Linked DNA regions of Homo sapiens. The protein of the gene in region 3 purifies or fractionates together with the protein of the main gene of each other region. This does not show direct contact. Each region holds a gene or a part of one and is shown on either strand. Other genes may lie near its edges. The genes, in order: TSPAN15, CLEC4A, TENM3 and TRDN.

Region 1 (8,259 bases), on a different chromosome or scaffold from region 3:
GAATGAATGAATAGGTTGTGATGATCACAGAACCCACCTCCTAGGGCTGTTTTGGACATAAAGTGAGATACACATATAAAGTGCTTATCACGGGGCTGGGCACATGGAGGAGCACAAGAATGCTGGCTGGCGTGATTTGTTCACAATTCCAGCCCCTGCAAAGGAAAGGGAGGGTGTCTTCTCTCCTTCCGAGAGAGGGTTGGGCCTCAGATGTCATCTAGGTCATTCTAAATGTCAGGGCTTGATGTGCAGGCAAGACGACCTCCCTCGGTTTAGCTGGTTCTCCAGGTAGCCTCAGTCCCAGCCATGCCCAGTGCCCACTGGGCATTAGTCAGCCAGTGTTTTTGGCCCTTCCAGGCCATAAACACAACCCCTATGGAGAGGGTCAGGCCTGGAGAGCAGGTGCACGGGCACATGATGGGAGTGAGTGCTTTCCATCTCATTGGTTCATTCATTTGTTCATTGAACAAATATTAACTGAGCACCTATTGCATGTCAATCCCAGTTCTAGTCACTTGAAATACAGAACAACAAGACAAAGTCCCTGCCTTCATGGAACTTACACTGTAGAAAGGGAGATAATGAACATAACAAATAGGTAAGCTGCATGGTACGTAGGGAGGTGACAAGAGTGACTTCACTGGGCCAGCTCTGGTGACCTCGGGGGATGAGTCTCTTAGCACACAGGCAACTGGCAGAGGCCTCTCTGGCATCAGAGCCCAGAACCCTTCTCCAGGCCCAGGGGGGACTCACCTCACCCTGCCAGGAGAGCCCCTCACCAAGGGGTGAGGGGATACGATGCATCCATAGTCTTTCCAAAAGTAAAGCCTGCCTGGGTTTACCTGCCTGACCATAGAATCGATATTCTGCAAGAGGCTCTGCTGAAGTTCACAGGCCCCAAGACCAGGGTCCAGTAGCCTCTTCCATCCTGCACGGGGCCACAGGACAGGAAGTCAGAAGGGGGACTCCTGGGCAGCCAGAAGATCACAGCAATGTTTGTGTGTGCATCCTCTCACCCTGAAAAGACTGAGCAGCTAATGGGGACAGGGAGAGGGGCCTTCGCGACAGGCCCCCAAGGGGTAGCCAACAACAAGGGAGGGGAGGTACGTGAAAATTGGTCCCAAGAGCTCAGCAGGCACAGCAGTCTGGAGCCATTTAATGTAGAAGCACGCTGCCCTCTGCACCAACATCTCCGAGGGATATATCCTGGTATAACCAGATTTTACAGCCCTATGTGAACTTCTATGGCTCAAATCCTCTATTGGAAGCTCATATAAGACATTTCTTTTAAAGCTGAGTGTTAGGGAAAAGGTTACTTTCCCTGAAGAACTGGTATGTTCTGCTGGTATGTTCTGCTGAACAGTAACAATGTAACAGACCATGTCTCCCTTTTCCTTTTGGTTGCCAGGAAACTCTAAGCCAGTGGTCTCCAACCTTTCTGGCACCAGAGACTGGTTTCAAGGAAAATAATTTTTCCACAGGATGGGGTGCGGGGGGGTGGGGGGTGATGGTGTCGGGATGAAACCATTCCACCTCAGATCATCAGGCATTAGTTTGATTCTCATAAGGAGCATGCACCCTAGGTCCCTTGCATGCACAGTTTACAATAGGGTTCACACTCCTATGCGACTCTAATGCTGCTGCTGATGTGACAGGAGGTGTAGCTCAGGTGGCAATGCTCCCTCAACCTCTGCCCACCTCCTGTTGTGCGACCTGGTTCCTAACAAGCCACTGACCGGTACTGGTTCATGGCCTGGAGGTAGGGGAGCCCTGCTCCAAGCCACCAGACACGAGGCTCAGCTCCTTTTCAGTGAGTCCATGAGGTCCTGAGGCTTAGATAGCAGGATTTTATATTTTTCTCCATCATCTAGGCCTCCTATCTGAGAATACAATTCCCACAGTCCTGATTTTTAATGCTATTTTAGTTTTTTACACTACATATTTCCCGTGTACTCATTCAAATCCCAGGTTGAATAGTACAGTGTAAAATAAATAGATCTGGACACAAATCAACCAGTTCTATGGAGGAAGCGAACGCCCTGTTTCACATTTAGAGAAAATCATCCAGGTGTGGTGGCACAGGGAGACTCAATGGTCATGTGTAACACAGGGTCAGATAACCCCGGCCAGGGGAAGGCTCCTCCCTACCTCAGTGCTCTCATTCAGATGCTGTCTTTAGATTCTACCCTATCTGCAGATGATGTCCGTGTTTACACCCCTTGCCTAGTCGTTCCCAGAACTCCAGACTCCTATATCCAACCGCATCTTTGACACCCCTGATGGGATGCTGAACAGGCTCTCAAACCCCCCACGTCCACGGTGAGCTCCTGGTCACCCAGCCTGCCTCCTTGCAGTCCTCCCCTCTCAGGCAGTGGCAGCCCCGTCTTTCCTGTGGCTCAGACCAAAACCTGGGTATCCTCCTTGATTTCTCTCTTTCATTCATCGCCCACATCTGCTATGCGAGCAAATCCTGTAGGCTTACTTGCAAAATACAGCCAGAATGTCACCACGGTTTGCCACTTCCACCACCACCACCACCACCCAGCTCCAAGCATCTGTCTTCCCCTCCCTGGTGCAGGGATGCTGTGGGGAGCCCTTAGGTGTCAGCCCCCTGCAATAACTACTTCATGTGATCATTAATTTTATATGTCAACATGACCAGGCCATGGGATACCCAGATATTTGGCCAGACATTATCCTGGGTGTCTCTGTGGGGGTGTTTCTGCATGAGGCTAATGTTTAAATCAGCAGACTAAGTAAAGCAGATGGCCCTGCCCAAGGGGGAGAGGTCTCATCTGATCAGGGAAGGCCTGAACAGAACAAAAGACTGCCCTCTCCTCAGTGACCATAAGAGAATTCTCCCTGCTTGGCTACCTTCGGGCTTGAACTGAAATGCTGGCTCTTCCTAGGTTTGAAGCCTGACCAGCCTTTGAATGGGAACTCCACCCTCAGCTCTCCTGGGTCTCCAGCCTGCCGACTCACCCTGCAGATCTTGGGACTTGCCCGCCTCCATAATTACACAAGCCAATTCCTTATCATCAATCAATCCCTCTCTTTCCTCTTGCTGTATTAGTCTGTTCTTGGCTGAACAGAGCCAGCAAGTCCCTTCTTGGGTGGACCACTGGACTCATGCAATGCCTGGTCAATGTGGGTGGGAGTGTGAAGGCCTGGCCCCCTCACCCCAGTAGGGGACAACTCTGAAGGGCTGTCCTCATAGATGTGGCTGAGGCCTCCAGCCGAACTGAGCTGAGGCTGCATCACTGCTCAACTCCCTTCATTGCCCAATCCCGCTTCTGGCTCCCACTTCCACAGGTGTTGATCCAAGAGCACCTTCCTGGACAAGATGACCTATGACCCCTGGATCACTGCATATCAGCCCCTAACTCTATCCCTGCATCTAGCATGTCCCTCACAACAGCCAGACTGATTCTTGTAAAACCAAGTCAGAGTGCCCCTCTTCCATGCAGCCCTGTATGGTCCATCACTCAAGGGTGCCCCACAGTCCTGCCTGTGGCCTTCGGGGTACCCATGACCTCCCTGACTCCACCTCCTACCATCCTCCGCTGTGCTCCCTCTGCTCCAGCCACTCTGTGCATTTCTCAAACGCCCTGGGGTGATTCCCACCTGGGGCCTTTGCACAGCTGTTCTTGCTGCCAGGAATGCCCCTCCCCCAGACACCTTCCTCACTTTCTTCAGAGCTTCACCCAGATCCCGCCTTTCTCAGTATCCCAAACTGCAATCCTCCATGCCCTACTTTCTTTTTCTACTCAGCATTTATGATCCTCTATCTTTTACTTATTTTGTTTGTCAGTTTTCTCCACTAGGATGTCACCTCCTTGCGGGCAGAGACTTTGTTTGCTACACCCCCAGAACCTGGAAATGTGTCTGGCATAGAGTAGGTTCTCAGCCAATATTTGTTGAATGAATGAATGAATGAATGAATACAAGTTTGGCTTCCACATCTCAGCTTAGGTATTCAGATGCTGCTGCCCTGGGTGATGAGGTTCAGGATCACCCCACGCAGGCCTCTCTGGAAACTCTGCTACTCCTCAGCACCCCACTTCCCAGAGAACTACCCTAAAATGGCAGCTAACACTTCCAAACAAAGCTTCCCTCCTGGCCCGGCCTTTTTTAGAGCTAGTGCACTTGGCACTGGCTCTCTGACTCATGGGCGAGGCCCCCACCCGCAGCTGCTCAGTTTACAGAATCCAGCAGTGGGCACAGAATGGTGGCAATGTCAGGAGAAAAACTTTCCATGACTATCTGGGCCATGAGTAATTGCAAAGCTCTCCACCTCGTTCCAATCCTGAAACAGTTTCTGGACACATTTGTCAAACACAAGGACTGATGAAGCCTTTCACTTAAGCGCTGACAACACAAGACATCATCCCAAATGACCAAGGTGACAGACCCGAGAGGATCGTGCTGGGGAGAGGAAGAGGATGGCATTTACGTCACCAGACCCCCTTCCAAGCACTCTGCTGCTGATGATCACCAGGACCTCAAGGCCAAAGACCAATGGAGATGCCCAAGGTGCAGGTCCTGCCTGCCTCCACTAATGCTGCAGAGCCAGCTACCCCCGCTAAGCTCCCCTGGCCTGGGCACCTCTCCCTCCTGCCCTCACCTGGCCTGCACAGTTCTCCAGAGTGTAGCTCAGGCAACAGCTGCCTGCACTTCATCCCAGCCCTGCCAACCTTGGGCAAGACACCCAGCCTTTGAGTGCCTCAATTTCCTCATCTGTAAAGTGGGTAAAATAACAGTACATACCTCACAGGGTTGTCGTGAATACTAAATGAGTAAATACCACCAAAGTGCCCAGAGCAGGCCTGCACAAGGTAGGTGCTCAATAGATTTTAACCAACACCACTAAGAAAGACATGGTCTCCCTACCCCCGACCCCCAGAAGCTCCACTTTCAGGAGCCCTTGAGAATCAGGAAAGCCTCCGCTCTGCCACCAACTCCTACTTCCCTGCCATCCACCCACACCACCCATCTTCAAGTTGGGAAGAGAGAAAAGAGAACATTTATACCACCTGGGGTCCCCGACAGCCCCCCAGTCCCCACAGGAGCAGTGTCTACCGTGTTCCTGATGCAGCAGGTGTAGGGCACCCCACAGGCCAGGGGTCCAGGGGCACTGCAGTCGTGGTACTGATTCTTGCTCCAATCTCGGTAGTCCTCCCCGCCACAGCACTTGAACTGAGGGAAGCAAGCAGGAAAGAGGAGCTGCCGTCATCGCCCAGGCCCTGCTCAGACGACAGGAAGGGGCCCTGTCAGGAGACGGAGGCAGTTTATTATGTGGGTCACCCTGGGGCAGGGAGAGGCTGTACACTTTCAAGTCAGAGCTGTCAAAGTGTGGCATGGCTGCCTAGAGGGTAGTGAACCCCCTGTCACTAGAGAGGTATGGAAGCCAAGGCTGGGCTGCCTCTTGGTGGGATATCAGGGTAGTGACTAGGCACTGGGAGGAAAGGTCCTTCCTTGACAACTGGCCTCCACTTTCTTCATCTTCGTGTCCCCAAATGCAGGTGCTAGGCTGGAAAAGATGGCCCTTAAAGTCCCAGAGACCAAGCATGATTCTGTGAAAGTCCCTGCACCTCAACCAACCTTCGCACCCACCCTAGGAGCCACCCCGTCCAGCTCAGCTGGCCCTGCCCTTAGCAAGGAGAGCACCCACACCTCACAACCTGCCTGGAGCTCTCCCCTTAGCCGAGCCCCTCCCTGCCTCCCCTCCCTGCTCCTGTAGGAAGTAGTTGGTAACCCTCCTGATGGCTGGTATGTGCCTGGCATTGTCCTGGGCACTGGAGAGACAGGGTGAGCAAAAGCAAGGCAGCCCTTGCTCAGGTGGAACACATTCCAGTGGAGAGACAGAGAGTGAGCACTGGATGGAAAGGTGCTGTGCAACCTGGAAATGGAGAAATAGGGGGAAAGTGGGGAGGGGCAGCTCTAGGTTGGCAGGTCATGAAAGGGCTCTTTGTAGAGAGGATATTTCATCTGAAACATGGAAACAGAAAGAAGCCAGACGACCCATGCAAAGGCCCCACGCAGAAACAAGCTTGTATTTCAGCAGCAGGTGCGGAGGCCAACAAGCCTGGAACAGAGAGAGTGCAGAGCATGAGGATGAAAGGGCGGCACAGGCTGGACCATGCAAAGCTTTGCCAGCCAGCTGAAGCAGGGAGCTGGGACTGGAGGGCTCAACCAGGGCTGCAGTACACGTCCTGGTAGCCAGACACCTTTCAGAGTCCCCACAGTGCCCCTTAAGCCACCAGGTTTTGGGACCTAGAACTGTCTTTCTGCAATGTAGTTCAAAGGGCATTTGTCTTGCAATGGAACAGACCCAAGGTCAAATCCTCAGACCACCACTCCCTGCTGTGCAACCTCAGGCAAGTTGGTCAGCCTCTCTGAGCCTCAGATGGTTGTCTGTAAAGCAAGAATAAGGATGGCAGCTCTGCACAGCTGAGCTGTGATTACATAGAGTGCCATGCATGAAGCACTCAGCACTGGACCTGGCACCAAGCAAGTGCCCATTCAGCATTAATCACCTCCTACCTCTATGCCAGGAGAAATGAAATCCCCAAGCCAGCTAAAGGCTGGTTCCAATAAAAACATCTCACTCCACCCGGAGCAGAAGTCAGCTCTCCCAGCCCAAGCTGGCAGGCACATCCCTGGCAGAAAAAGACCTTCCAGAGGCTGCACCTGTTGTGACTGAAGAGAAAGTCTGGGCCAAGGGAGCGGCCACAGCAAGTGGCCCTGCATGTGGGGAGAGGCTAGTCCCCACTGAGAGCTGGCACAAGGATCCAGGCCAGCTGAGGCCCCCAAGATTATGTCCCAGGAAGTGCTGTCCCGGCTGAGTGGGCCTGCAGCCCTCACTCTACTTGTCCTCACCCAGGAGAACATACCAATGATCCCCACAGCTGGCACTGTGGTCTCACCCTGTGCTTGGCACTGTTCTAAGCACGTCTCCTGAATTAAGTCAAGGTAATCCTCATGACGACGCCCCAAGAGCTCCTGTCATTATTCCCCTTATGTAGGTGAGGAAGCTGAGGCTCAGGACCAAGTGAAGTTGATGTACAAAAGCCACCCAGGACAGCAGCTGGCCCTACCACTGCCATTATTATTATTATTATTATTATTATTATTATTATTATTATTATTATTATTGCACCAACAGATTTGGGTGGACCTAGAGGGGAGAGATGGTGTCCCAAAAGGAATAGGATCATCATCACATTCAAGGAAGTGTCATGAAAGTAAGAGAGGCGTCTGGTTCACTGTCCCATATTTGGGGGAAACTGAAATTAGTGAAGAACTTTCTCCCAATCAGGGATGTCTTTAACTTGACAAGGAGTGAGTTGTCACTGAAGAGACTTGGCAGAGGGGGCTTTGGACTGGGGTAGGTTACTCCCCTTGAGGTTGCTCACACCTCAAGGAAGGAGGATCCTTGCCCATTGGAGGGTGGTGCCCTGGGACCCTGCAAGGTTGCTTGTAGCAACACCTGACTTTGTTTTATTTGGGGGTATGGGGCAGGAAGCCAGTGTAACTGGAGAGGAACAGAAGGGTGTGAAGGTTTTGGGTCAGGAATGTGGGCAGAGGACTGGCTGAATAGGTTGGGCCCTGGCTTCCCCATCCTTGGTGGGCCATCCATGCTCACTGTTGCCTCCCAATCTGGCCAGCCACCTGCTTTGGGAATGGATAAGTCACCTGGTCCCTCACCCCATCTTCTTGAGCAGGGGCCTGAATGGGGGGCTAAGAGCACGGGAGGCGCATCTCTACCCCAAAGCGCCTGGCTCACCTTTTTCTGAACAAAGTCCATGATGTTTTTGAAGTCCAGATCATCATAGTAGTTCTCAATTCCTCTTCGAATGTTGTCGTTCAGGAAGTCAATGGTCTATTCAAAAGGAGAAATTACAAAGGAAAAGAACCACACACTCCCGGAGTCCAACCCAAGGTTTTCCAGAAGCCTGGATGGGTAGAGAATGCCTTGTGCCAATGCAGCTCGCGCCCAGCCAGCATGGAGCCCCCTCCACTCCCCACCCTGGATGCCCGTGACCTCCCTACCCACACATCCTCCCCGTGCCTCCAGTGTTCATCTGATGCCTGAGTGCCTGTGCTATGTCCCAGCAGGAGTAATTCACTCCACTCCCTTTGCAGACCAGACAGCCCAGGCCCTGAGAGGCTGGGGCCGTGCTTGGGGACACACAGCTCTGATGCCGCCATGCCTGAGCTGAGACCTGGCTGTCCTGGTTCCAGGCCCAGTGCTCTTTC
Region 2 (7,505 bases), on a different chromosome or scaffold from region 3:
TCCTTATCTCAACCGCGTAAGACACTCCCAGGGAGGCTGTTTATAGACCTCCCCCCAGGAATGCATTCCTTCCCCAGGGTATTAATTATTAATATTCCTTGCCGGGAAAAGAATTCAGCAATATCTCTCCTACTCACACGTCTGTTTATAGGCTCCCTGCAAGAAGAAAAATATGGCTCTATTCTGCCGGACCCCGCAGGGAGTCAGACCTTATGGTTATCTTCCCTTGTTCCCTGAAAATTGCTGTTATTCTGTTCTTTTTCAAGGTGCACTGATTTCATATTGTTCAAACACACACGTTTTACAATCAATTTGTACAATAGTGGTCCTGAGGTGACGTACATTCTCAGCTTACGAAGATAACGTGATTAAGAGGTTAAAGTAAAGACAGACATAAGAAATTATAAAAGTATTAATTTGGGGAACTGATAAATGTCCATGAAATCTTCACAATCTATGTTCAGAGATTGCAGTAAAGGCAGGCATAAGAAATTATAAAAGTATTAATTTGGGGAACTGATAAATGTCCATGAAATCTTCACAATTTATGTTCTGCCTTGGCTCCAGCCAGTCCCTCCGTTTGGGGTCCCTAACTTCCCGCAACACAAATCTTGTTATGAAGACGATTGACTGATCACGATGACACTCAGTAACCCTTCAGAACTAGATGAACTACAACTCACATCTGTAATCCCAGCACTTTGGGAGGCCAAGGCAGGCAGATCACCTGAGGGCAGGAGTTTGAGACCAGCCTGGCCAACATGCTGAAACCCTATCTCTACTGAAAATACAAAAATTAGCCGGGTATGGTGGCACATGCCTGTAATCCCAGCTACTCAGGAGTCTGAGGCAGGAGAATCACTTGAACCCGGGAGGCAGAGGTTGCAGCGAGCTGAGATCGTGCCACTGCACTCCAGCCTGGGTGACAGAGCAAGACTCTATCTCAAAAAACAAACAAAAAAATTTTCTAATGATTGCAGATAAATACAATATGCTTCTTTTTCACAGTACCCTATGATTTTTAGACTAGGCTCTAATATTCAGAATTCATGAAATTATCTATGGTAAACCTAGTTATTAATATTATGTAATTCAAGGATAACATTGTTGTCTTAAACCTAATATAATATTGTAACTTGCTTACATCAATATCTGGATTTGGGTCAAAATACTTAATCATCTTTCCATTGGAAGTAATTGGGAGTAGAGAACTTTTTGTTGGTGGATGTACATACAGTGTCAGATGAAGAACAACACTATCTTAATTTCCCAAGATAGTACATTTGCTGGTGCTATTTTTATACAGTGAAGCAACAGCTTTGAAGCAAAATAAGAAATAAAATATTCAACTTCATTTAAAAAAAGAAAACTGGGAAAGAAAAACAGAAATAGACAAATAGGATTGCATCAAAATAAAAAGCTTCTGCACGGCAGTGGAAACAATCAAAAAATGAAAGAGTAGCCTACAGAATGGGAGAAAATATTTGCAAACTATATATCTGACAAGGGGTTAATATCCAAAATATGTAAGACAGGGGTGTCCAATCCTTTAGCTTCTCTGGGCCACATTGGAAGAATTGTCTTGGGCCACACATAAAGTACACTAACATTAACGACAGCTAATGAGCTAAAAAATCTCATAACATTTTAAGGAAGTTTACAAATTTGTGTTGGGCTGCATTCAAAGCCATCCTGGGCCACATGTGGCCTGCAGGCTACAGGTTGGACAAGCTTGATGTAAGAAATTTGTACAACTCAACAGCAACAAAAAAAACAAATAATTCAATTTACAAATGGGCAAAGAAACTGAATAGACATTTTTCCAAAGAAAACATACAAATGGCCAACAGGTACATGAAAATATGTTCAACATGACTAATCATTAGGGAAATTCAAATCAAAACTGCAATGAGATACCACCCACACAGCTGTTAGAAGAGCTATTATTAAAAAGACAAAAACTGACAAGTATTGGTAAGGATATAGATAAAAGGAACCTTTGTGCTCTGTTGGTGGGGATATAAATTAGTACAGCTATTATGGAAAACAGTATGGAAGTTCCTCAAAAGACTAAAAATAAAACTATCTGGCGGGGCGTGGTGGCTCACGCCTGTAATCCCAGCACTTTGGGAGACAGAGGCAGGTGGATCATGAGGTCAAGAGATCGAGACCATCCTGGCCAACATGCTGAAACCCCGTCTCTACTAAAAATACAAAAATTGGCTGGGCATGGTGGCGTTCACCTGTATCCCAGCTACTTGAGAGGCTGAGGCAGGAGAATCGCTTGAACCCAGGAGGCAGAGGTTGCAGTGAGCCAAGATCATGCCATTTTACTCCAGCCTGCCGACAGAATGAGACTCCATCTCTAAATAAATAAATAAATAAATATAAATAAAACTATCATATGATCCAGCAATCCTACTTCTGGGTATATACCAAAAGAAAATGAAATCATTATCTAGAACAGATATCTGCACTTCCATGCTTATTGGATCATTATTCACAATAGTGAAGACACGGAAACAACTTAAGTATTGGCCAATGGATGAAAGGATAAAGAAAATGTACTATGTATATAAAATGGAGTAGTATTCAGCCATAAAAAAAGGAAATCCTGTCATTTGCACAACATGGATGAATCTGGAGGGCATTATACTAAGTGAAATATAATAAGTCATACAGAGAATGACAAATACTGTACAATTCTACTTATATGTAGAATCTTAAAAAGTCAATCCATAGAAACAGAGGGTAAAATGATGGTTGTGAGGGAATGGAGGGCAGTGGAGAAAATCAGGCAATGTTGGTCAAAGGGTACAAATTTTCAGTTCTAAGATGACGAAGTTCTAGAGATCTAATGTGCTGGATGGTGACTATAGTTAATAATGATGCATTGCACACTTGAAATTTTTTGGGGAGTAGATCTTGCTTTGTGTTTGTTGATACCAATGGACAGAATGGAGTAGATCTTAAACGTTCTCACTACACACAAGATTGTTAACTATGTAAGATAATGGGTGTGGGTTAAGTAACTTGATTACGGTAATCATTTTACAATATATATGTATGTCAAATCACCACAGTGTAAACCTTAAATATATACAATTTTATTTGTCAGTGTATATATATATATTATAATATATATATAAAATATAATATATATATATGTCAGTATATATATACAATTATATATCAGTATAGTAGGGATGAAGAGAAAACCAGACAGGAGGAGACACCACATCATATAATTTTATTGGTAAATAATTCTTTAGCAACCAGATAAAAATTAAGAGAGACTCATGTTCTCTCCATGTGTGCACAATGGGGGCCTCCAGTACAGGCTCTGGCACATGAAAAAATGCTCAATAAATGCTCACTTTATGAAAAAGTGAATCAGTCAATGTACAGACCAATTCTCTCATAAGTAGAATAGTTGACAGACCACCTAAATTCTATGGACCTCCCTTACACATGAATAAGAAGAGCTTATTATCTATCCCTACAATGACAGATACCAATCCAACCACCTGTTCATGGAGAATGTTCAGTTCATAAGTGGATCTTCATCATCTCACAAACTGACCTTTGAGGACCAAGACAATTAACATCATTCCAGCCCCATCTTTTGGGTGATTTACGAAAATTTAGCACAACGCAGCGCTCATTGGGATCACTGGGCTCACGTGGATGCCAGAATCTGAAAGCGACAAAAAGGATGAGGGCATTTCTTCAAACAGAGCTTTGAAAAGGGTTAGAGACAGGGGTGAGGAGCGAGGGATGAATTTCATGGAACATAGGGTCAGATATGCCCAAATCCACCTTTCTGCTACTCATCATGCAGCTTCTCCTCCATCTGCATTTCCGGCATTTCCTTTGAAAACTGTGCCTATGTCACTCAATGTTCTCTACCTTACTGCTTTGAATATCCTCACCATAGATTTTCTAGAGGTTCTCTTCTATTTGTCCATCCTTATGTCCTGTTCCTATGGGTCCATCAACCTATAGGGTGTCCTTGTATGATGAAAAGATTTTACCCTGGTCCCACTTATCAATAGAGTTTTTTCCTTTTTTTAATGCACTGTTTTTAAAGTCTAGAGAACTAGTAAAATCTTTTGAATCTTCTACTTATCCTTGTTATTGGACAAGTAATTTAACTTCCCTGATTCTCAGTTTTTCTATCTAAAAAATAAGGACTAGAGTAATATCACTATTTATTTCATACAGTGGATATGAAGATCGAAGGTGGTAATCCAGTAAAGTATGTATTTTATGTAATTTATGTAATATATGTAAAGTATGTAATTTATGCAATTAAAGAATTACATAAATATGAGATATAAGATTATCAGAATTTAGCATTTTTGCTTCATAAGAAGCATTACATCTTCAGCCTGACTGGGTGTGGTGGCACATACTTGTCATCCTAGCAACTCAGAAGACTTGGGTGGGAGGATCAGTTGAGCCCAGGAATTCAAGGCTGCAGTGAGCCATGATTGCACCACTGCACTCCAGCCTGGTTGACAGAGTAAGACCCTGTCTCAAAAAAGAAAAAAAAAGCATTATTAAATCTTAATAATTGGTTATGATCTTAATCAACATGGGTTTTCACTATGTAGAGACAGGTAAATATACGGGTTAAAAGCACAGTAAGATCCACCTGATTTGAGAACAATTGTTGACACCACTGGGTGACCTTAGCTGAATTATCTACACTCTCCAAGCTCAATTTCCTCATATCTACAGTGGGAAAAATAACAATGTGTGCCTCATAGGGTTCTTGCGCAGATTAAATGAGATAATGAAATTATTTAACCTAGTACCCAAGAGCTAAAAGAAGAGTGAGCTATTTTACTTTTATAGCTGATAGCTAGAATACCCTAAGCTCTCTGCATGATCCAGGACCCAAGATTCTTTTATCTCATTCTATACTCACGTGGAACTTTCATTGTATGGTGTCTGATCAACCCATTGCCAATGTCGCTGACCTTCTGGATCTGAGAGCCCCACAAAATAAGCAGATTCTTCTTGCAGATTCTGGAAGATGAAATCCTGAGGGGGGAAAAGAAGGAGTCACAGCCTTTACAGTATTCAGCTTAAACTGAATTCTTAATACCTTAGAGAAACAAGAAGAAAAGGAGAGGATCCAGCAACAGCTGCATTAGAGCTCTACGTAGGAATGGGGATCTCTGGCTGAGCAGGGCAGAATCAAAGACATCGCTTGTAAGCATGATGTTCAGTACATACGGAAGGAATTTTTTTTTTTTTTTTTTTTTGAGATGGAGTCTCACTTTCTGTCCCAGGCTGGAGTGCAGTGGTGCAATCTTGGCTCACTGCACCTCTGCCTCCCAGGCTTAAGCGATTCTCATGCCTCAGCCTCCCCAGTAGCTGGGACTACAGGTGTGTGCCACCATGCCTGGCTAATTTTTGTATTTTTAGTAGAGGCTGGGTTTCACCATTTTGGCCAAGCTGGTCTTGAACTCCCGGCCTCAAGTGATCCGCCCGCCTTGGCCTCCCAAAGTGCTGGGATTACAGGCATGAGCTAGCATGCCCAGCCAGTATGGAAGCAATTTCTATGATCAGAATGAATTCTCATCTCAGGTTTACTTCCCCTCTTTTCTTCACTAAGGGATTACATTCTTCAAAGTTGTACATGAGAAAATTTTGGCAGATTCAGTCATTTTCCTTTCATAACTTCAGGGATTCTTTATTTTCATTCCTGAGTGTTGATTGTGATTCATCATGAGTTAACTTTATTTCTTTTCTCTATTCAACTTAATACCTCTTCTTTGTTAAGTAGTTAATCATGTATAAAACATTTACATATTGAAATAACAAATTGATATTTCAGACTGAAACATTTTCATCCTTCCATTCAACCCTCATATATTTTTAATGTCACAATTTCTTCCGGGGAGGTTAGTTTTACTGAAGCAGGAAGGAGGTATGGAATATAAAGGCTTAGGAGCCCTTTCTACCTATTTTATTGAAAGCCTTCTGCCACAGCGCAAATATCCCAAAGTAACAAAAACCTCCTTCTTAGCCAAGAGAGATATACAAAGATCAGGCAGGGCTCACAGCCCCATTATCTATTAGAAAGTACCTGCTCTTCTTGAGTGTTTATCACCAGCAGGTGAGCCTCCATTCTAGCACAGTCCTTCTCACTGTCTTGCCAAGATGCTGATTCAGTAGAAATAAAGTAGCAGTTGGAACTAAATGACTTCCAATTCTTTGGGCAACAGCTCCAGGCTGTCTCTGTATTGGGAAGAGGGGCACATACGTGCAATATAAATAATCACTCTTAAAAGTGTGTGTATTATTAAAATTAAGAGCCAAGAGAGAGCACATGGAAGCTGGAACTCCCCTCCACACTCAGATGCAACCAGGAGCCCCTGCCCCTCAGGTGTCAAGGAAGCCAAGTCTACCTCAATCAGGCAGTAATGAGGCAGGGCCCCTTTTCTCCTGCTGAAGTGCCATCTGAAAAGCCCAGCTATTACGAAAACATGTTTAAATAAGATCCAGACTCTGAGAATATAATGCAAAAATATCCAGAGTTCAATAGAAAATAAGTCATTATGCTAAGAACCAGTAAGTTTTCAAATTTAATAAAATATAATAATCAATAGATGCCTACAATCAAGACAACAAAAATGGGGCCGGGCACGGTGGCTCACATCTGTAATCCCAGCACTTTGGGAGGCTGAGGCAGAAGAATCGCTTGATCCCAGAAGTTCAAGACCAGCCTGGGCAACACAGCGAGAACCTGTCTCAAAAAAAAAAAAAAAAAAAAAAGATAATAAAATTGTTAGAATTATCTGACAAAGATTTAAAAGCAGCCATGATTAAAAAAAAACAAAAAACAAAAACGCTTCAACAAGAAGATACAGACATGCTTGAAACAAATGAAAAACTAGAAAGTTTCAGCAAAGAACTAGAAGATATAAAGAAAAACCAAGATTTCACCATGCTTGGGGCGCCTTCCTTCCCCATGGCGGGACACCTGGCTTCGGATTTCGCCTTCTCACCCCCTCCAGGCGGTGGAGGTGATGGGCCAGGGGGGCCGGAGCCGGGCTGGGTTGATCCTCGGACCTGGCTAAGCTTCCAAGGCCCTCCTGGAGGGCCAGGAATCGGGCCGGGGTTTGGGCCAGGCTCTGAGGAGTGGGGGATTCCCCCATGTCCCCCGCCGTATGAGTTCTGCGGGGGGATGGCGTACTGTGGGCCTCAGACTGGAGTGGGGCTAGTGCCCCAAGACGGCTTGGAGACCTCTCAGCCTGAGGGCGAAGCAGGAGTCGGGGTGGAGAGCAACTCCGATGGGGCCTCCCCGGAGCCCTGCACCGTCCCCTCTGGTGCCGTGAAGCTGGAGAAGGAGAAGCTGGAGCAAAACCCGGAGGAGTCCCAGGACATCAAAGCTCTGCAGAAAGAACTCGAGCAATTTGCCAAGCTCCTGAAGCAGAAGAGGATCACCCTGGGATATACACAGGCCGATGTGGCTCACCCTGGGGGTTCTA
Region 3 (8,874 bases):
TTACCCAACTTACTAGATCTATGTTAAACAAAAATACCACATGTCATCACTTTTCAGCAGAGATCAGAATAATTGGTACTACACATTAGAAGAATCACCTCAAATTAAAGAATGTACAATAATGCCTTTGATCACTGTACAATAGAGTACATGTCAACATTTTTTATACTCTGAATGATGAAAATGGTCTAAGAATTTCCATTTTTTTTCTTTGACAATAAGGCTAAGACTATTGATATACTTTTTTAGTGACACTTTATTTTTATTTAAAATTTTTTTTATTATACTGTAAGTTCTGGGATGTATGTGCAGAACGTGCAGGTTTGTTACACAGGTATGCGTGTGCCGTGGTGGTTTGCTGCACCCAGGCACTTTATATTTTAAAAGCAAATTTTAACTGAAATATAGTGAATAAAATAATGAAATGTATTTCATATATGCTTGCTTAAAAGCCTAAAGGCAATTATAAGTGATGTATTTCAGATCAACTTTCAAAACTGCATATTTGAAGTCCAAATTATCTGAAAATCCCCCATTAAATAAAGTTAAATAATATTTTCTATGTCACTGACAAACAGCAATGGCACTATTGTACTTCATGGCTTAGGAAACACAGAAGAGTTTGCGTGGGGAGCTTTGCAGGGAAAGGGTGAGGGTGCATTTGCTAGAGTTTGGGAAGTTATTTTTAAGACTTCTCACCAATGTTCACAGTTCTTTATTTTTCCCAATAAAATTTTGTTAAGTATTGAAAATAATTCTGCTTTTACTCATATCACAGAATTATAAAATCCTAGAATTAGGTATAATCTGAGAGGTTGCCTGAGCCATCCTTGGTCCAGTTGCTACTGCGATTTACTTATTTGTCATTTCAGTAAACACTGACTGAGCATCCACCCGCAGGTACTTGCCAGAGATATAACATGGACAGAAAACAAAGTCACTGGCCTGAAAAATCTTAAAATCTAGTAAATTAAAGCTGTCCTTGCCTAACAACACTTTGTGACTAGAAACTAACAGCGCAGCTTTGTGAAGCTGCTCGTTCCATTTTTGGATGGATGAGGTCAAGGGTTAAAGTGCTTCCTTCTAAGGCGGGTGAGTTCTGCCTTAGCCATGGCCCCTTTCAATGGTCTGAGGGCCACTCTATGGAACCATCATCTGTGTAATGCTTCCAGTAGATCACATCTCAAATAATCAGACATTTATCATGGCTCTCTCTCCAGTCTTCTCTTCGTAAGACAACCAACCCCCAGTTCCGACTGCGCTCTTCATAGGGTTTTTCTTCCAAACTCCTCACCATTCTGGTATCCACCTCTATATGTCAATTTCTTGCTGCAGCACCTCAGGACTGATCAGCACACAGAGAAACACATTGCCTTCCCTTTCCAAAATCACATCTAACTCGTTTCTCTTTGCTCATTAGATTCTAGCTCGACTCATATTTTTCTGTCCTTCAAAAACACCATTTCTGGTGTTCTTCGCATCTTTACATTTGCCCATCTCTGCGTCCTCCCACAGCTGCCCACACGGCTGGTTCCGTCTCATCCTGAGAGCTTCGATGTGGGCATCGCCTCCGCAGAGAGGCATCCCTCGTGATCCACCTCAATCAACTTCCCCTCCACTCCCAGTCACTACCTCATCTCTCGTTTTAGTCTCAGTTTAACAGCGATGATTATCGGAACTTATCTTCTTTGTTTAGTTATTTACTGGCGGCTTCCTCCCTAGAAAGTGAGTTCATCCCTGCACTGCTGTCGTCTGCAATAATGCAAGGCAAAGCGAAGGACGAGAGGGAGGGAACGCCCCCGCCCTGGAACCTACATGGCATGATTCATATCTCTCTATTTCTTATGAATACAGTCAAGACGGCACAAGCTTTTCTGGCAGACATAGCCCATTTGTTTAAGGTCAATAAAACCGTGTCTTTGTCACATACGGACGAGACACATTCTTACGTGATGGGATCGTGCTGCAGAATTTTAGAAGGAGGGCTGGTTTGCTGGATTCAAACTACTACTCCGGCTCTATTTTTAGTCTCTTATCCAACACCACCTCCTTCCTGTCAACAATGGCTTTGATACCCACACCATCTATATCCTAGAAAAGGAAGACATTTCTACCTCCTGTGCTCTTTCAGAGCGGGGCCTGCTTCGTGTCCACTGCTTATCTAAAATGTTATTCCTGAGGGGCGGGGGTGGGGGCTCATAGCGAATCTCATTCATAAGCGCTGCTTTGTTTTTCTCTCTGTGTTGCTTCCATGACTTCTTTTTAAAAAATTCTTTCTTCCCCTATGCCTTGGGGCTGCTGGCAGTGGTGGTAAATCCTGCTGATGACCCGGGGTTAGATAATTAGTGGTACCTAGATTGCATTCATTTTATCAATGAGACAACTTCTAGGAGTTTCATTTCAGGCCACTTAGGAAAACACATAGCCAGAAGGTGCCACCCTCTGCCATAGCGGTTGCTGCCTCTGTTTGTTCAACATAAGAGACAAGTGAGCTCTTACGCTATTTCCCGTGACTTGCAGAGCCAGGGAGTGCTACCAGAAAAGGAGTCACTGTTAACCACAGAGTGAGGATCCAGCAGGAGCGCCCGCCAATAAAATGTTACATCGGTATCAAATATAAATCAGAAACAGCTTTCCCTAAATTCCTATATTTATTAACTAACACAAATCTGTAAAATCACTGAAGGCAGTTATTGTTCTACTGGTTTTATTGCTCATCAACGGAAAAGTTAAGAAACCAGCTCAGAGTCCTAAAGCAAGTTGCAGCATTGACACAACAGTAGCCTCTTAATCCCTTTCTCTCTCCTGTGGCTGGCCCTGGAAGAGAGGAAGTTTTCAGTCCTATGGCCGTGTCACATGTCAATATCCTGGGATAACTGGTTCCAAAAGATTCTGGCAGGGACTACGGTCATCACATTAATCTAAAGAATGGAAGTAACATGTGGACTGCCTCAGTTCAAACAGACCACAGTTGCTAAACAGAGACCCAAACTGGGCCACGACGCTGCCTTCATTTAGGAGACGAGACAGAATTTAAAGGAAAGCACTGATTGCTGGAAAAGCAACAGAGAATTAAAACAAAATTTGCAATCTCAATTGGAATTTCTGATTTACTCTTGGGGCCACCTGAGAAGCAATGTGTGACACAAATCAACAACAACAGCAAAGAAATGAAGATCAGATAGATTCCTTTCTACTTGCTCTTTCACTTTTCTAAATGATGCCGGAGGATGCTACATCACATGAGACAGAGCAAAGTTGCTGGAGCCACTCTCTCAAGAGGACTCTGGGGCTGGAAACAATTGTGTCTTGTTCCCTGACACAGTCTTGGGAAACAAAGCCCATGGATTAAGTAAACTCACCCAATGATCCCATCCTGGGCAAAAAGAGAATGATTCCAGCATGCAGACCCTCAGTATTCCCATAGCAAGTGACCTCTGCCCATTAAACAAACAATAGCACAGCCTAACACTCGATTGTTTTGAATGTTTCTGAAGCCTTTGCTTCATTCCCAAAACACTAGAAAGTATCACTGCAGAGGATTAAAAGCATTCATTGATTATGGAATGTAGACATTACAATAAAAAGAGACTCTAGAAATTTAATTTTGTGAAGAAATGCAAGATTCTCATTAATTTAATTAGAACATAAATAACATCAAGCATAGCTAATAAAGTTCAACATGATTTGATTTGCATGAGGCTCTATTAATGTAAGAAGTAAAGTGATATTTGCAAACTCTCAGAAAGCTGGACAGTTGGAATGGTTTCCTAAACAGCTATCTATTAGGCTACACAAAACTTGGTTTTTCTTTCCATATGTTACACATCATGAGAATTACACAAATCTATGACAGGGACAAAAGTGTTCCTGGACCACTGGAGGGAAGAGCCTGGGAACTGAGGATTCCAGGAGACCCGTCTTCCTCTTCATATTCTCCTCTTGTCCATCAGTTTAGGAGCCAGGCTAAAGCTGAGGCATCTTAAAATTTCGGAATGGGAAGGAAAAATAACATTAGCTACCCTGGAGGCTGTGGAAATAAATGCATCTGAATGCAAAGGACAGTGACTTGCAGGCTGCCTGAGATCCAATAAAAGCCTCATCAGAAGTAGCTGTCAATCACTCTAACATGTATGGCTGGTTCCAATAATTCTACCAGTCAAGATAATAAAATTTCAGAACACTAAATCAGCTCACAGCAAACCAGTTAAAAATATTTTGTGATCGCCGTGACCACCATGGTGGTCTAATACCCTGGGTTATATGTTTTAATAGAAAACACAAATGAGGCCGGGCGCGGTGGCTCACGCCTGTAATCCCAGCACTTTGGGAGGCCGAGGCGGGCGGATCACGAGGTCAGGAGATCGAGACCATCCCGGCTAAAATGGTGAAACCCCGTCTCTACTAAAAATACAAAAAATTAGCCGGGCGTGGTGGCGGGCGCCTGTAGTCCCAGCTACTCGGGAGGCTGAGGCAGGAGAATGGCGTGAACCCGGGAGGCGGAGCTTGCAGTGAGCCGAGGTCACGCCACTGCACTCCAGCCTGGGCGACAGAGCGAGATTCCGTCTCAAAAAAAAAAAAAAAAAAAAAAAAAGAAAACACAAATGATTCCATTCTTGGAAGAGTCTATCAGTTAGCACTTTGAGAAGACAGTCAGCCCTGAGTGCCCTGCCTCTCTTTCATTTCCTTTCCTAAGTACTGGAACCTCAGTCACAAAAGAAAACCAATATTTAAGTCAACAGACATACATTTAAAATTATTTCGCTGATGTGACTATGAATTTTACTTATAAAACAAGGACGTGCTGAATAGTTCACAGTATTTTTGGTGTGTTCATTTCAAGCATCTTGAACTGCTCTTTTCCTCAGCTTCCGTGTCCCAACACTGCCCAGATTTGCCCTCTCCATCTTCAACTACTTTTTTCCAGTCTCCTTTTTAGACTTGTCTGCCCTCCCCAGTTTCCAATACCTCGATACTCTCTTCTCATCTTCTCCTCCTTTTCTTCTAGGCTGTCTCATCCGTGCCCTCAATTCCCACCTCTCTACAGATGACTCAGCAACTTACCTTTAGTTTATCCTTAGTTCAGACTTCTCCTCCAAGCTCCAGACCCATCTAAAAGCCTTCATGGCCAGGTGCGATGGCTCATGCCTGTAATCACAGCACTTTGAGAGGCCGAGGTGGGCGGATCACTTGAGGTCAGGAAATCATGACCAGCCTGGCCAACATGGTGAAACCCCGCCTCTACTAAAAATACAAAAATTATCTGGGCGTGGTGGTGCATGCCTGTAATCCCAGCTACTCAGGAGGCTGAGGCAGGGGAATTGCTTGAACCCGGGAGGTGGAAGTCTCAATGCGCCAAGATCACCCAACTGCACTCCAGCCTGAGCGACAAGAGCGAAACTCTGTCTCAAATAAATAAATAAATAAAAGCCTATGTGACATTTACCCTTAAGACATTCTAAACACATCTCCAATACATCTAAAGTTGAATTCATTGTAGCCTCTCTACCACATAGTCGCCCTGGAATGCTTCTAATCTCAGTGAATGACATCACCGCCCAATTATGCAAGTCAGAAACCTAGTGATTATCTTGCTTACCTCTCTCTTAGCCTCCGCTTCTAATACATTATCAACTCTTGTCAATTTTATTTCCATCTCTGATAAGCACTACCCACATACAGGCTACCATCATCTCTCATCTGAACCACCACGGTAGGAAGATCTAGGGTACAGTTCAGAGAAAGCAATCAGGCAGGAAAACCAGTAAGTTTTATTGTTTGAGACAGGGCCTCAGTCTGTCACCCAGGCTGGAGTGCACTGGCGCAATCTCAGCTCAATGCAACCTCGACTTCCCAGGCTCAGGTGATTCTCCCACCTCAGTCTCCCAGGTAGCTGGAACCACAGGCAAGTGCCACCACATCGGGTTAATTTTTGTATTTTTTGTAGAGACGGGTTTTCACCATGTTGCCCAGGCTGGTCTCAAACTCCTGGGCTCAAGCAATTCACCCACCTCAGCCTCCCAAAGGGCTGGGGTTATAAGCATGAGCCACCGTGCTGGGCCACCAAGAAGTTTTAAGAAGGCAAATTGACTGGATTAAGAAAATGTGGCACATATACACCATGGAATACTATGCAGTCATAAAAAAGGATGAGTTCATGTCCTTTGTAGGGATGTGGATGAAGCTGGAAACCATCATTCTCAGCAAACTATTGCAAGGAAAAAAAAACAAACACCGCATGTTCTCACTCATAGGTGGGAACTGAACAATGAGAACACTTGGACACAGGAAGGGGAACATTACACACCGGGGCCTGTCATGGGGTGGGGGAAGTGGGGAGGGATAGCATTAGGAGATATACCTAATGTAAATGACGAGTTATTGGGTGCAGCACACCAACATGGCACATGTATATATATGTAACAAACCTGCACCTTGTGCACATGTATATATATGTAACAAACCTGCACCTTGTGCACATGTACCCTAGAACTTAAAGTAAAATAAAAAAAAAAAAAGAGAGAGGAAAAAAAAAAAGAAGGCAAATTGGTGGAAAAGGCATGTGGCTGACAGTGGAGAAAACAGATGAGAGCAAAACTGAAAAGGGTCCACTGGCTTCAGGAATAAAGAGGTTATTTGTGACCACGGAGAGTCATTTCAGTGGAGAAGCGTTTTTAAAAGAACGGTCAAGCCTTGTGCATTTTACCTGTCTGGAAAAAGAAAGGGAAAAGGAAAGCCGGGCCCAGTGGCTCATGCCTGTAATCCCAGCACTTTGGGAGGCCGAGGCAGGTGGATCACGAGGTCAGGAGTTCAAGACCAGCCTGACCAACATGGGAAAACCCGTCTCTACTAAAAATACAAAAATTAGCTGGGCATGGTGGCACATGCCTGTAGTCCCAGCTACTCAGGAGGCTGAGGCAGGAGGCCTGAACCTGAGAGGCGGAGGTTGCAGTGAGCCAAGATCGCAGCATAGCAACAGAGCAACAGAGTAAGACTCCGCCTCACAAAAAAAAAAAAAAAAAGAAAGAAAAAAGAAAGGGAAAAGGAAGCGACTGAAGATAGGAGAATGTGGAAAAAAATTAATGGAGCCAAGGATCCAGAGGAAGCAGAGGGGAATGCCACACAGGGCCCAGGTAGAGGGGGCACCACTGAACAGAAGAAGGGATGAAGGCATGTCTTTTTTGTTAGAGAAAAACAGAGAACATGTGTGTTGACCTCTCATTATTGAATGAATCAGAAGAAAGCATTGTCAGAAATGGAGGTGAAAACTGTTGTTACAAGAGAACAAAGTATTGGGATAGTAATTGATTAAATGAACATTTATTAAGTGCCCAGAAGCTGAGCTCTGGGAAGCCAATGGTAAACCAGAGAGAAGCTATAACGATTCACATGAAAATCCCAACTCTGCAAGGAATGAAATTTCAGCACGAGTGTTAAACTGTCAAGAATGGGAGCAGATTAAGGGGACCATGTGGAAAAAAATCTTCAAGCCCGATGACAAAAGCCTCAAAGATGCAAGCAGGCATCCTTGAGGCTGTAGGTGGTGATGAGAAGCGGGCTTCAGAGAAGGAGGAAATACTGAGTGAAGGTCAGTGGAGCGGGAAAGAGAGGCAGTGAAAATGCCATCCTGCCCAGGGGCCTCAGAGGCCAGATCTGAGGGGACATAGCAGGCTGGTCTCAAAGCCCTGTAATACAGTAATCCTATGACAAACAGGCAAAACAGCAGCCTCTGGAGCTGCATTCCATCCCAGGCCCTTACTGTCTCCCTGCTCCAGGCTCTCTGGGTGGACAGAAGACCTCCCAGGCTGTGTCCATGGGGAATGGCACCATGAGGAACACCCTGCTAGATCCTGCCTTTCCCTGCTCTCGTGGGCTGCAGGGCCGGGACTCGCAGGGAGAATTGCCAGGCTCTGATGGTAATCACCCACATGCTCAAAGTGCACGCAAGATAACTTGAAGAAAAGTCAGGCATTTTCACTCTGAGATCAGCATGCTGATGACACATGGTCTACATCTCCCCTTTTATCTCTAATCCTGACACCACAGTTTCACAACGTATTCAGCATCTGAGGAGCCTAACAGGGGACTGGGATCAAAGTGAGCCAGAAAAAGATTAATCCCGATAAGACAGAGGTTATGATGATAGCCGGGAGAAAATATTTAAAGAATGTGGGGAGCGCTCTTCTGTGTCTCTCGTAGGAACGTGTCTCTCTCCTACTTGCTGGGTCACTTCTGGCATTCCGTTGATCTCAGTGGACGTCCATGACAAGACAAGCCCAACACAAGCAGGCCTATTTATGGTTCCCAAACTCAGAGTCAGTGACAGACTAAATAGGCTCTGACTCTCGCTCTGAAATATCCGGGTGGCTGTGGCTAACCAGGGTCTTCATAAATCATGAGTTTAATTAAGGCAACAGCCAATATCCACTTTTTCTCCCCATAGAAGTTCCCCCACTGCAGTCATCAGCAAAGCAAAAAATGCTGCTTAACTTTCCCCCAGTTTCACTACTCTACAACTGTTATTACAGTATTGTTTTTTTCCCAGCCATTTTAATTAATGTTGTTTTGTGAAATTTCTTCCTGAATCTATTTCTCTGAGAAGTTTAATTTTAGAAAACCAAAGTGTCAAATGATCTAGCATTAATTACCCTATTTTTACACTTTGAAAATAGCAAACTACTAATCAATTTTTGTTTCTTCTTTATAATCAGATAGGTGTAATGATTTTTTTCCAGTAAAGCTTTTTTTGCGATTATTTGGGATACAGTATTACTATAAGCAACAAATATTAGATATTATTGTCCTTCCTTCTTATTTCATTTGAAGTATCCATAGTGGTATTTTCTCCCTACCCTGTCTCCGCCCCTATTTGGT
Region 4 (8,259 bases), on a different chromosome or scaffold from region 3:
AAATTATTTAACTAGAATAAATTACTGGGATCAACAACATTTTCCGGAGTGCAAAGGTTCTCATTGTCTAGTTTTCTAGAGCCTAGATGTGTTACCTATTTGTTTTAGAAATGAGATGTCTCTTTGATGACATACACATAAATTATAATTATATATTTTTGAAAGGCTTTCACAAAAATAGTTAAGAAAATAAAAATATAGCTGTCTTTAAGCAATTAGCTTCATTTATTCTAATATAAATGAGCTCCTTCCTTAACAATACTGTCTTCTTGGAAAAGTTTTCCCAAACATGAACATAGTTCTGTCAGTTTTTAAATCTGCAAAAGGCATAGTACAAGCAATCAAGTTACTCATGCTTAGTTCAGATGTTAGTAAAAAATACCTTTTTATACTCTGGGCAACAATTAAAGATACAAGACAAGGTAGATATATTCCTTTAACTCAAAATCCTTCCCCATTGTTTTGAATATTAATTCCAAGATTATCTATCTCCATCAATAGTTCTTTGGAGTGGCTAAACCAAGTTCATGTATAAGGGAGAAAATTTTAAAGTTTTGGAAAACAAAGTATAAATATTTGAAATGTGATGATTTTAATATGAATTGTGTTCACTACTAAGAAAAGAAAGATATTTTCATTGTCGTGGGTCTTTTCTTCTAAGTTTACCAAGAATAAAATAAGATGATTCACTGCTTCACTTCAAGACATTATTAAAGATTTTAGCATTCCTTATATGGAGAGATATTAGCACATATTTTACATTTCAACTGACTTCATTTGCAATAGGCCATGCAGTGACTGAAAGTAAAATTAAGACCTTAATGCCAGTTATTACCGCTTTTTATTGGTTTTATTCTAGATCTACACATGCATTATGCAATTTTTAAAAAATGAAAATACAGTTAGGTACATAAAAAGCCCACAATCTTAGAAACAAAGACTATTAAAACAGACAAGTACAAGAATTGCTTGGAATACCTGGTTTTAAATCCCCATGGACAAATATGTCAATCATATATCGACAGAATGCATACTGATCTGACAGAGTAGAAAGAAAAAGAGCAATGAAAAAATGTCATCAACACTTCATTTTTCTACAGAGAAATAATTTAACAAAGCAAACAAAATAGCACAATTCTATTTTGGTTACTACAATATTTTCTGTAAAAAAAATAATTTGCACTTATATGAAAATACAGAAGGAAAGAAAGACGACAAATATAATGCTTCATTTCTTCCATACAAAAATAACCTCAAAAATTGAAAAGGACTAGTTCAGGGTAATCTTATAGTGGTTGTTTTCAAAATAAAAACCTATTTTGTCAAATAATTGATTACAAAAGTCATCATATTAAAGCAATTTTTCCCATTTGTCATTTTATAAACTTTCAATAATGAAACAGAAGTTTCACAAGAGGAAATTGTTTCCAACTTGGAGTGTTTTATCAAATACTCAGTTCCAGCCCTTCTGCTAATTGTCTCTATGGAGCAGCAGAATGTCTTTTCCAAAAGACTATCAGGAGAACTAACCTCTTTGCAACCTGTTAGGTGGCCTCTGAATAAAAATGCTCTTTAATTGGGAGAGTAAATCAAGAACAGAGTAACAGAACCAAATGATATTGTTGTTAAACTAATCAAATGAGTAATCTTCTTAAGATCATCTTATGATCTTGACTAGTTTATGGCCTATGGTGAAAGTAAACAAACAAACAAAAAAAACATAGTATGTAAACATCATTTTGGGCAGACCTGGTCTTCAGGAGTTGGTTTTTTTTCTATTCCCTCTAGATTAAAGACATTGCACTTAACTTTAAATCCTCACAGAACTTTAGATTCTCCTGAGGTCAATCCAACTCAAAGCTCAATTGATGAATCTTTACCGTATCTGCTTTAAAGCATACATATTATGAAATAATTTACATTTCAATATTCCTGAAATATGCATTTTATTAATCCACCAAATCCGAAGGCAGCTTTAGGACCAAGAGAGTTTATTGAATTTAAGCAACATGTTACATTCTTAATTGCTCCAAATTATGCATATCAAACATATGAAATAACAAAGCTTGTTACTAAACAGATACACCTCTAAGGATTTTTGTAAATCTCGTTCTTTTTAGAGTAGTAACAGCATTTTTAGAGGAATCCATTTTATTATGAAATTCTGTTAGGTCTTTAAAAAATAAATATAGTTATTGAAGAAGATATAAAAATATAATCTTTTTCATTAATACCTAAATAAGGGCAGGCCAAAACTCATAAAGTTCCAAAAATTTAGATGTATTTTAGTTGTTGAAATTGGAGCACATTTTCCCACAGGAGAGGTAGGGAATGGGAAGGAGGCTAGTCCTCAGGTCATTCCATGCATTGATTTGCCCTTTGATGTACTGGCAGTAATAGCTGGAGTTTCTGATCCCAGGACCTGGGAACCCTATGATTGGGAAAGACATAAGGTTAAGGTAGAAGGTATTTTCTCTTTTCTAGACATGAGATTGTTTTCCTGAACAAAACTGTAGAACTGGCAATTTGACTCTAAGACAAAGCAAGATGAAAAAGTACATTTCCCTTAAATGAAAAGTTTGAAGTCAGACCAGTGTGGACTTTCTGAAATCGGCAGTATGTTCCCTTTATTTCAGTACCTTAAGTGACTGTACTCTTTTTAGATTTGTTCTGCCTATACTCTAGGAGTAGTTCTCAAAGGGCAACTTAAACACGAGAAAGAGAGAGGAGTTGTCAAAATACAGATTTTTGGGCTCCATCATCCAAAAAAAATTAAAATGCCATGGATCTGGACCCTAGGAATATGCATTTTATACAAACTCCTTAGATGAATCTAATTAGACTGCATTTACAGAATCACTGATCTAAAACCTTTCATTCCTTTTTCCCAAAATAATTACTCTTAGAGGCACTATAGACTCCCATGACAGCAAATAAGAGTGTTTGTTTTTATGTATGTTGGAAGTTTAGAATGCAGGGAGTATTTTTAATATAACATCCCCTCCAAATGAAATATTATCTGCCCCATGTTGTGATGGGATAGTTATATACATAACATGTTGAAGAGTGTACTGAATTAATTAAAATCTTCACGCTTCAGAGAGTCTTCTTTAGCTGAATGCTGACAATGTAATGAAACTTTTCAGCTTGTATGTTGAAATATTATCAAAGTACAGTCAGCCCTCCATTTCCCTGGGTTCCACATTGGAGCATTCAACAAACCACACGCCTGTAATCCCAGAACTTTCGGAGGCTGAGGCGGGAGGATCATTTGAGGTCAGGAGTTCAAGGCCAGCCTAGCCAGCATAGTGAAACCCCATCTCTACTAAAACTACAAAAATTAGCTGGGCATGGTGGAGGGCACCTGTAATCCCAGCTACTCCGGAGGCTGAGGCAGGAGAACTGCTTGAACCCGGGAGGCAGAGGTTGCAGTGAGCTGAGATTGTGCCACTGCACTCCAGCCTGGGCAACATAGTGAGATTCTGGCTCAAAAAAAAAAAAAAAAATATATATATATATATATATATATAGTTACAGCTACCATGGTTGGGTCTGTACTGAACATATACAGACTTTTTTTCCTTATCATTATTTACTAAACAATACAGTATAACCAGTATTTACAAAGCATTTATTAAATACATTAGGTAGTATTGGTAATCTAGAGATGATTTAATGTATACAAGAGGATGTGTATAGGTTATATGCAAATATTAGTCCCTTTTATATAAAAGACTTGAACATCTGTGGATTTTGGTACCTGCAGGGAATCCTGAAACCTATCCCCCACAGATACTGTGGGACAACTGTACCTTACTTATATTTCTTATATTTCCTAGATCCAAAAATCATTCATTTAATTAATACACCAACAGCCCAATGAACTTCTAATTGCAAAAAGGAAATTTCTTATGAATTCAGAGGATGTTTTTTAACTTAGAAAATTATTTGTTACAACACTTAGAAGGTTTTGTTATATGTAAATAGTGCTGTGATCTTGTATTCTAATGGCACCAATATATCAATAGGAATATGAGAAAGATGTTTTTATTCCTATCAAAGCTGATAGGAATTTTCAAATATTTTAAGTTAGGATGCCCATTTCCACCTGTCCTTGGCAATGACCTTAACAACGTATAAGAATTCTAGGTAGGTATGTGTTGGGAAGTCTCCAGTTTATCTGCTTAACCTATCTAAGAATACAGAAAAACCAAGCCTTCCTGATTTTGAAAGATTTGTGTTCTAAAAATGTTTCTTTAAACCCAACTTAAATATTATAGCAGAAAATTTTTCACAAAGAAAATCTAAATTGTCCTGCCATTCTAACTTTCATAGTTCTGAGATAATAATTTATATAATGTTAATTTGCTCATCATTGTAAGTACTTTTTCCCCAAATAAACATCCTTCTTGGAATAACACATGCTGTCCATTTCTCTCCTTCTTGATTCTCAGGAAGCAGTGATAGATGTCATTCAAATGATACCTAGTTGGTGTTCCCTGTGGAATAGTAACAAAGGGAAAATACATTCTGGGTGCAGAATGTCAAGAACAACAAAAAATTTTTAAGAAACCTGTAATGAGGATGGGGCACATGTGGTCCAGTACTCTATAACAGATTCACATTAGCTATACTTTCTCTGCCTGCCACAAATATCAAATAGTTGTTTTAAAAGAAAGAATGAGTGAAGGAGCAAAGTGTGTGGCAGCTGGAAAATTCGTTTCTCCTTCCCCACAGACCTCCTAGAGGTCATCAGAAAACTAGGGAGCAATGTCTGACTATGCCAACTCTTCCTACTCTACAAACAGATTTAGATGGGTTCATAAAAACTAGATTATTTGATGGGTGTGTGTGTGTGTCTGTGTGTGTGTGTGTGTTTATGGTAGGTGTGTATATACATATGCATCTTATCCCTAATGCTTTAAGCAGAAAAAGAGATGTATTATTTCCATATACAATATTGAGAGTAACTACATTGAATATATTCATATGTATACTATGTAATTAAATAATTACTAATAAATATGTGTCCCATGTGAAAATCTGTTTCCAAGTGAGTAAAGGACCTATGAGCCTTATTTCTTTAAAAAGAAGTATTTAGAAATCTATATGAAAAGAATGCCTCAAACATATTAGGTCTAACTTAACTATGTGAATGAGTATTCTCTTGCCCAAAAAGCTAACTCAACAGTTAGCTTAGTTGAGCTAACTCAACTAAGTCATCATATAAAATTTTCAAAACCAAAGCCTCAGAAATTAAAAAAAACTATATCTTTATCTTGCTTAGCTAAAATCATAATGTAATTAGTTTTCTTTAATTTAAAAATGCTCTTAATTAAATCTTTGCTTAGTAACAAAAAATGAAAAATAAAATGACATATTTATATGTCTGATCTGCCATTAGAGGTTAAGTTTTGAATACTTACCTAATGATACATTTATATAATTGATGGCAATTGTTCTCAATACTGAGACTTGCTTTAGCAATTGCAATTGTTTAGCTGATAAAATCACATTTGTGCTTTTGTTTTAAACTCTAAATGATATTTGAATGTCCTTTTAATAGATAAATAACTCTTTGTGTAGAAATAAAAATAGTAGACTGAAAAGGGATATGGTAATATAATGCTGTCTTTAATAAATCTGATTACTGATAGAAATGAAATACAATATTTGTGGCCTGGAAAATAAACATTATTTTAAAGTGTTCCGGTGATGAGTTTTTATCAATAAAATGTGGCTCCCAAATCCCCAAAGATATGAAAAATTAACATCAAAAAATACATTCACATTCCTAGTTGTTAGATAAGTATTTTGACATTTCCAAATATAACTGGCATCAATTTTTACACTCTGTATTTATGGTTAAAAATTAGAATGTACTTTGTAGGTTTTCACTGATTTCATGTGATTATTTTTCTTTTTGAACAGCAATCTAAAGTGTAAAGGATTTCAGGATCTAAGTAATCATACCAGTGAATCCAAAGATTATTTCTGCTGTTTTTTTACCACAGTAAAATATTATATTCAACGTATTTTCTCTTTACTTACTTCATCCTTTTTGTCTACCAAAATATTTCATTAATGACATAATTTTGATGGAAGTAATAATTAACTTTTAAATTTTTTTCATGGTGATATAATCACCTTGAAAATTGGAAAAAGTTTTAGAGCTCCTAAGTTTTAATATGACTTATATCTTAAAATAATAAATTAAAATTATCTAAATTTAAAGGTTTGTAGATCACTAAAAAAAGAAAAAATCTTTCCTTTTTAAAATATATATTTTTAAAATATGTATCTTTTGTCATATAAATCAGAGTTGACAAATACTACATGTGAATCAAAGTTTACAAATGCAAATTCAAGAGAAAAAAGATGAAAATACAGTACGAGTGCATTGCAAATTTCATTTCTTGTGCCTTATGAGGAAAAATTAATTTCAGTTTCATCCTCCAAATAGCCTGCTCTGTAATAAAATTGTAAGATTTCTTAAACTAAAATCTAATAGAAACCAATTCTTTGATACAGTCCTTAGATAACATTAGTCAAAAGTGCTACAAAGTAAAGAAAAATTTGGTTTTGCAATGTCTCCAAGAAACACCAATTACAGGAATAGTCTCTACATGTTAGATCCCCGTATTCTGTAAAGGAGTCTCAGGATTATACAGCAAACTGGAGTCAGGAATGGACTTAGGAAAAGAAACATTCAATAAGGGCCAGAGATGTGGTACGATAAGACCCTTAGTTGCCCTCCTAAACCTTCAGCTCTGTATATTCACATAGCAACCTTCCATAAAATAAAAATTCAGGTTTATATGCCACCTCCATTGAAGTGATATATTTTTGCAAAGTGGGGATGTAAGTTTGACATCACTCTTGCTGAAGAATGGCGAAATATGTCACATTCAGAGCTTTCTAAAGTTAGAAATTTAGTCAATGGAAACTGAAAAAGAAACTTGAGAACTGTCTTCTCTATAACATCTTGCCTATTAAATAAATTTAATAATTGGATGTATATTCTAAATGATGTGCTCTTGCCAATGCAACAGTAATGTATGGATAGTTTTTATGATATTTACTCTATATGATTCCAACATGTACCCCTTCACAAACTCCTTAGGAATTGCTGTCATTTTGGGGGACCACTTTCCTCCAAAGAGTATGACACATACAATCTTTATTCCACCTCTTAATAGACATTCCATATCTCAAAAATTCAACATTTATCCCCAATCTTTATATGATTTCGGATGCTACCTCCAAACCCCTTTTAAAAATACTTCAAAATGCCCCTTTAGATCTGTGAACACATTTTAGTATTTTTATAAATAAATATTAATTCCCAATTTACTGTATTTCTTTTCTGATATATTTACTTTAATGTCTTTTACCCCCATTTGAAGTCTGATTTTGGTCTTTTTCAACTTTTAATTTCACTGCATGTGCTTCTTGCCCAATATTCTCTTAGAACCTCCGGCAGCCTCCTGCTCTGAATGTTTACCTTTCTGTTCATGCTTTGACACAGCTGCTTTCTCTTTGTCCTCCTTTTCTTTGGGTTTTGATGGTGTTTTCTGTACTTCTTTTACTTTTGCAGCTGTTTGCTTCACTTTCTCCTGTTTTCCACCTTTCACTTCCTTTTTAGTCTTTTCTTCACTCTTTTCTGCAGTCTTAGCTTTCTTCTGTTCTGTATAAAGTTAAAAGATGTTGAAATACTTTTGTTTATTTACAAACATAATGTTTCATCTGTACTATGTCATTAAGGAAAATTGGAAAAGAAAGAGGGAAGAAAGGTAAGTCACAAGTGTTTATGTTAAGAACAGTATTTTTCAGGAAAACAATGAAAAATACTGTTCTTAACATAAACACTTGTGACTTACCAGAGTTTTATACAGTTTATGAAGTGCTATATTAGATAGACTACTAAAAGTGTTATGGCTTTTAATTTGTACATGAAAACACTATTTTTTAAGGCAATAGTAACTTAGCATGTCAACAAGGAGGCATTTGTAGCATGCAGGGGATGGATGTACAGGAATTTCTGTGAAAGACAATTTCCATACCAAACAGCCCAGTGAAGTAGTCTCCTTTTATAAGCACATGATCATTTTGCTTGATAACTGAAAGATCTTAAGGGTCATTCAAGAAACTGAAATGCCAACAAAGTCTTTTTTAAAGACAACAATTAGTAATGCAAGTGTAAAATTATCGCATTGGTGTTGACTAACAGAAATAAAACAATGAAATCCATTAGAAGAT

What was found.
Region 1: the proteins of TENM3 (region 3) and TSPAN15 purify together in Homo sapiens (co-immunoprecipitation; one large-scale study listed by IntAct). This does not show direct contact.
Region 2: the proteins of TENM3 (region 3) and CLEC4A purify together in Homo sapiens (co-immunoprecipitation; one large-scale study listed by IntAct). This does not show direct contact.
Region 4: the proteins of TENM3 (region 3) and TRDN purify together in Homo sapiens (co-immunoprecipitation; one large-scale study listed by IntAct). This does not show direct contact.

The regions. Positions count from the first base shown.
Region 1 is NC_000010.11:69,495,217-69,503,475, reverse strand, and holds part of TSPAN15 (tetraspanin-15), read right to left. Parts: exon of another isoform or gene 8,226-8,259; intron 7,883-8,225; coding exon 7,787-7,882; intron 5,268-7,786; coding exon of another isoform or gene 5,197-5,267; coding exon 5,080-5,196; intron 1-5,079. UniProt on the Homo sapiens protein: Part of TspanC8 subgroup, composed of 6 members that interact with the transmembrane metalloprotease ADAM10.
Region 2 is NC_000012.12:8,134,332-8,141,836, reverse strand, and holds the end of CLEC4A (C-type lectin domain family 4 member A), read right to left. Parts: exon of another isoform or gene 6,985-7,505; intron 6,253-6,984; coding exon 6,101-6,252; intron 5,050-6,100; coding exon 4,934-5,049; intron 3,698-4,933; coding exon 3,550-3,697; 3' UTR 3,230-3,549; downstream 1-3,229. UniProt on the Homo sapiens protein: C-type lectin receptor that binds carbohydrates mannose and fucose but also weakly interacts with N-acetylglucosamine (GlcNAc) in a Ca(2+)-dependent manner. Involved in regulating immune reactivity.
Region 3 is NC_000004.12:182,239,667-182,248,540, reverse strand, and holds the start of TENM3 (teneurin-3), read right to left. Parts: upstream 5,140-8,874; 5' UTR 5,065-5,139; intron 1-5,064.
Region 4 is NC_000006.12:123,496,215-123,504,473, forward strand, and holds part of TRDN (triadin), read right to left. Parts: intron 7,688-8,259; coding exon 7,505-7,687; coding exon of another isoform or gene 7,437-7,504; exon of another isoform or gene 5,614-7,436; intron 1,039-5,613; coding exon 979-1,038; intron 1-978. UniProt on the Homo sapiens protein: Contributes to the regulation of lumenal Ca2+ release via the sarcoplasmic reticulum calcium release channels RYR1 and RYR2, a key step in triggering skeletal and heart muscle contraction.